Regions from separate parts of the Homo sapiens genome. Here region 1 is linked to region 2. Evidence: fine-mapped expression QTL. Tissue or cell type: whole blood. Region 2 holds a variant in brackets; the other region holds the start of a gene. All regions are shown on one strand. Distances are between the middles of the regions.

Evidence for each region. PIP is the estimated chance that this variant, and not a neighbour inherited with it, causes the effect.
Region 1: it holds the start of FAM8A1, and the variant in region 2 is fine-mapped to the expression of FAM8A1 in whole blood (INTERVAL, PIP 0.98).

What each region holds. Positions count from the first base shown.
Region 1 is chr6:17,598,992-17,601,751 of GRCh38, forward strand. FAM8A1 (family with sequence similarity 8 member A1) reads left to right here and starts at 1,311. Exons shown (of 5, transcript NM_016255.3): 1 at 1,311-2,130. The coding sequence starts at 1,419. RefSeq lists a silencer at 1,170-1,649 and an enhancer at 2,716-2,760.
Region 2 is chr6:17,626,049-17,628,808 of GRCh38, forward strand. NUP153 (nucleoporin 153) reads right to left here. Exons shown (of 22, transcript NM_005124.4): 18 at 2,607-2,760; 19 at 1-116. Among named protein-coding and RNA genes, the nearest start is that of FAM8A1, 27 kb to the left of the region's middle. The variant T/C (reference allele first, on the strand shown) is at 1,311.

The DNA of each region.
Region 1 (2,760 bases), 27 kb before region 2:
CACGCCATTCTCCTGCCTCAGCCTCCTGAGTAGCTGGGACTACAGGCGCCCGCCACCACGCCTGGCTAATTTTTAGTATTTTTAGTAGAGACGGGGTTTCACTGTGTTAGCCAGGATGGTCTCGATCTCCTGACCTTGTGATCCGCCCGCCTCAGCCTCCCAAAGTGCTGAGATTACAGGCGTGAGCCACCGCGCCCGGCCTTGTCCAGTCATTTTTTTATACGGCTGTCCATGCTTTGTTGAACCTAAGCATACAAATACACGATTTCCCTTGTTATCTTTGGGTCTTCATTCTGAAGGCTCCCGTGTCACATAAAACGATGGTCAAATCAATGTCTATGTCTTTTCTCCTATTAACTGCCTCCTGTCAGTGACTTTCAGCGAAACTTCAGAAGGTGAAGCGGAAGTTTTCCTTTGGCCCGGACAGCATCATCATTAATATCATTAATAAATATTCCCACAGTATTTGGCCCTTGTATGTCCTTTGTATGGTGCTGGGGATACAATAACATATCGCTGCAGAGATTTTCAAATGTAAAAGAAGAGAGATTATACTGATTTAAAAGCTAGATTCTGTCCTCACCCTGGAGCTAGTCTGCATTTACGAAAACTTACTTTCCACTGCGGTAGACAGACGCTTTCTACTCCAGCGCAACTGTGCCTTTCCTCAAATCTAGTCTCAAATTTAGGTTCCTTTTCATTTTCTGTTATGGAAAGGCCCTCAGCGTATCCCAGGCTTTGGAGCCTTTTGTTAGTAGTCTGGCCCATGCATAATTTCCCCTTCCTCTGAATTATACATAGCACCTCACTAGTTATATTTTAATACACTTTCCTATGTCTCAGTGGTAGTTTCCTATATTAATATATATCCCAGTTTAGTTTGGCTTTTAATTTCTTTTCTTCTAAGGGGATAGATGCGTTCTGTACCACCTTCTCGAGTACTAATGGTTAACTGGAATGAACACAAGCAACAAACCCTCCGGCCTGGATCCCAAAACAACAGTCGCGGTTCTGCAACAGAAAAGGCTGCGCTGGCCCTGGGACCTGTCTCGGAAATACTCCTCATCCATCTAGTTTCTCCCAGGACAACTAGGCCCAACCCCACGGGAATATACAGAGAGGCCTCGGGTCACAGACTTAAAGCTGTAAAAGGGAGGAGGCGACGGTCTGGTCCCAGTCACCGACCAGCCACCGACTACTAGGGCCCGAACCCGGGACTGCAGACGCACCTCCCCGCCCTCCCTTCCCAGCTCCGCCTGGCGGCGGGCGTTGCTCCTGAGGGGCGGGGCTTCCGCTTCCGGCGGGGGATTGTTGACGCCTGCGGTTGCTGCGGTGGTGACGGGGCTGTTGGGGAGGGGCCATTGGGGGAGGGAAACGGAGCAGTGACAGGTATCCCAGAGGGTGCTGCTGAGGCGACGATGGCCGAGGGGCCCGAGGAAGCCCGAGGCCACCCTCCCGGGCAGGACGATGGCGGAGGGGACCACGAGCCCGTCCCTTCCCTGAGAGGCCCTCCTACCACCGCCGTCCCATGCCCCCGCGACGACCCCCAGGCCGAACCCCAGGCCCCGGGCCGGCCCACAGCCCCGGGCCTCGCGGCTGCCGCCGCAGCCGACAAATTGGAGCCGCCGCGCGAGCTCAGGAAGCGCGGGGAGGCGGCCTCCGGCTCCGGTGCAGAGCTGCAGGAGCAGGCGGGCTGCGAGGCGCCCGAAGCCGCGGCGCCACGAGAGAGACCAGCTCGGCTGAGCGCCCGCGAGTACTCCCGGCAAGTGCACGAGTGGCTGTGGCAGTCCTACTGCGGCTACCTCACCTGGCACAGCGGCCTGGCCGCCTTCCCAGCCTACTGCAGCCCCCAGCCCTCCCCGCAGAGCTTCCCTTCGGGCGGCGCTGCAGTCCCCCAGGCCGCGGCGCCGCCGCCCCCGCAGCTGGGCTATTACAACCCCTTCTACTTCCTGAGCCCCGGGGCCGCGGGGCCTGACCCGCGGACAGCTGCCGGCATCAGCACCCCTGCTCCAGTCGCGGGCCTGGGACCCCGGGCTCCTCACGTGCAGGCGTCGGTCCGGGCCACTCCAGTGACGAGGGTAGGATCCGCAGCCCCTTCGCGAAGCCCGAGCGAGACCGGGCGACAGGCAGGTGAGAAGCGCGAGGTGGAGGCTGGGCGGAGTAGAAGGGTTTTCGGGGGCCTGTGGGGTAGAGCTGGCACGCTTTTTAGACCTGTAACTGCTGCTTCTACTCTGATTGACTATCCTGCCCGTTCAGTTCACTAGCTATCGTTTGTCCAGGCCCTAAATTCCCAAAATGTACAAGGAGGCAATACAGTTTCTTCTTCCTTTAGACCTGGCACTCCAAATTGACTCCCTTACTCATGGGACTAGTTGTTTATTCGTGAAAAGAAATTGCTCTTCAAACCATCCTCTTCCTTTGGTTTTCACGCTCTGCAGTGAGGGCCAAAGCTAAATTCGCAAATGGCAAACCCACTTTTGGAGGGGCTCGACTGGTAATGCTGAAAATTATTCAGACATTGGCTACTTAGGACAGTGGAACTGAACGGATATAAAAGGAGATCGACATGGATACAAGTGGAGTTAGGAAGTTTTGATTGGGTCAAAGCTTCACTTCATTTGATCAATATCTTGTATATTGTGTAATTGTTTTTGCTTCTGTGTGTGAACTAGAATATTTTGAATTAGTTACACTTCTTAGTTTACTATTTAAACTATTAGACTTTTAGTTTATTTTAGTTAGCCACAGATAGATGGGACA
Region 2 (2,760 bases):
ATTGGAGGAAGAGGTGGAACTACCAAATATGCCACCACCAGCAGAAGTGGCTGGTGTACTTGAACTAGAGGAACTGTTGTTCAAGAAACTAAAAACTGGCTTTGCTGCACCTTGATCTGTAAGACAGAAATTAAGAAACAAACATAAATCCTTAAGAATAGTCTCAGAAAGTACTTTTTCCTACCCTACAATTGCTAGAATTTTCCTACCCTAGAATTCGCTAGAAAATAGATTTTTTATATAGATTACTTCATCAAATGGACATCTGTTTATATTAGATTTTGACAAAGTCAAATACATTCATCTTCTTTTATAGCTTATGGATTTTAGGCCTTTCATAGGAAGGCCTTTGGCATTCAGGTTAATAAAAATACACCTCGAATCCAAATCTAACTGGATACTGTAGTTGAATAGCAAGCTTAGATAGTGGAAGACAGCTGTACTTTTATATGTTTTATTTTGCAATTTATATTACAGTATGTGGCAAAATCATAACTTCAATTTATCTAAATGGATAGCCAAGTTTCTCCACAGCATCAACTAGTACAGCCTTTGTGCACTAATTTGCAATGCTGTCTTTATCACACACTACATTTCCTAAAATGCATATACTTGTTTCCTCTACTGTTATCACTAGACTGTTTTAATTATTATAACTTTATACCATGGACTGATATTAGTAGGACAAAGCTGCCTGTGTGCCTGCCCTTCTTCCCAAAATTTCTTGTGTGGTTTCCTTTCCATGTGAATTTTAGAATAAGTTTAGCTTGTCAAGCTCTACAAAAATTCCCCTAAGAACTAAAATTATGGGAGGAGGAAGGGAATACCTTCACCCAGCAACAAGTATGCCTTTTGTGTTCTTTTAGTTATTTGGCATGTTACAAGTTCTGCTGCTTTTATAAAATACAAGTTAGAAATGTTAGGAAAAACAAATGAGACATGCTGATTTGAAGAAAAACTTTTGATTTTTATATGGTGATTCTGAATCCAGCCACCTTATTGAAGATTTTTTTCTAAACTATTCCAATAATCTCTCAGTTCCAATACCGCACACTATCCAGGGCTGGTCACAGTACACTATGGGCATTAGTATGACTTACAGAAAATGGAACATGTTGGCTTACTTTCAACCTGGCTAATGGAAGAATGGTTAAGAGTGTCTACCATAGCCTGGTGTTTTCATCATCAAATCTGATTAGACCCTATCATGTTTTTGTTGCTTTCCAAATAATATGTAATTTTAGTTTTGATTTTGTCTTTATATTTCTAAGTAAATATATAACAGACAAAAAACTGCTCATAGCTATTTG[T/C]TGAATTCCATACTTTTTAAAGGTTAATTTTGAGTGTTTCCAATTTATTATTCAAAAGTATTCATGGATATTCAACTTTTGCATTTTTTGCACATCTAAAAACATCTGTATTTTGCCTTTGTGTTGGTGTTTTTTTGTTGTTGTTGGGTTTTCTTGAGACAGAGCCTTGTTCTGTTGCCCAAGCTGGAGTGCACTGGGCCAATCTCTGCTCACTGCCACCTCCGCCTCCCAGGTTCAAGAGATTCTTGTGCTTCAGCCTCCCGACTAGTTGGGATTATAGGTGTGAGCTACGGCACCCGGATTGTCTTTATATTTAAACACATTTGGCTAGTAACAGAATTCTAGGTTCAAGAACATTTTCACTTTAAGGGCACTGTTGTTTTTAGCATGTGATGTTACAAATTAGAAGATGATGCTAATCTGATACCTGCCTATTTGTGGCAAATAGCTTTTCTCTCTGAAAGCATTTGGGGTTTTAGCTTTGGTGTCCTAAATTTCAGTGATCTTTGCCAATAGGTAATTTCCATTTTTAAGACCAATGTCTTTCTTTAGATCTAGAAAATTTTCTTCTGTCACTTCTTTGATATTTCCCCAAAACTTCTTATCTTCTAGGCCACTCCTATCCCAAAGGAACTTGTGGATCTAACTTGGATCACTCTTTGTACTGGTGCACTAAGTTTGGGGAAATTCTAGTTCACTAATCTGATTATCAGCTATGAAGTTCTTCCTGCTATTCAGCTCACAGAATGACTTTAATAGGATCCACCAACAATCATGCTTTTAACCTTTAAGGTGCTATGTCATTTTTTTCCCCAGGACTTCAGCTTTCAAAATCTCTTGTTTTCTCAGGATTAATTATATTTGTTGTCTATGTTTCTTAATGTTTGATGAGGACTGGTTATCTGTAACTATTTGTAAATAAAGGCCTTCCCATAGATTATGGTAGAAAATACTTCATAAGCTAAGAATCCTTATTTTCCAGGTAGTAGATACCAATTCTGATTATAAAAGCCCAAACAGAAGAGAAAGACACACATAAATATGCACTATATTGAGCTTTGCATTACTGCTGTATTTCTCAAAATTAGATCCACAGATGACTTCACCAGAATCATGAGGGTTTTAAAGAGCAGTTCAAACTGAAAATCCTAGGTTCCTTCCCAAAGAGTTCTGTATTTCTCAACTATGTTCAGTGTAAACCATTAATTGACTTGCTGCATCTGTCAAGGCAACTTGTAAAACGACAACTTGTAAAAAAAAAAATAATAATAATAATAATAAAAAGTTAATACTTACCAGCTGTAGTACTAGTTTGAGCTCCAAAGGCAAAAGTGGCTTTTGCTGGCTGTTCAGATTCCTTCTCAGATGGTTTTGTCATACTAAAACTAAATGTGGACTTTGAAGAATTCTCATCTTTGGTTTGCTCTGAATTCCCAAAGGAAAACACTGG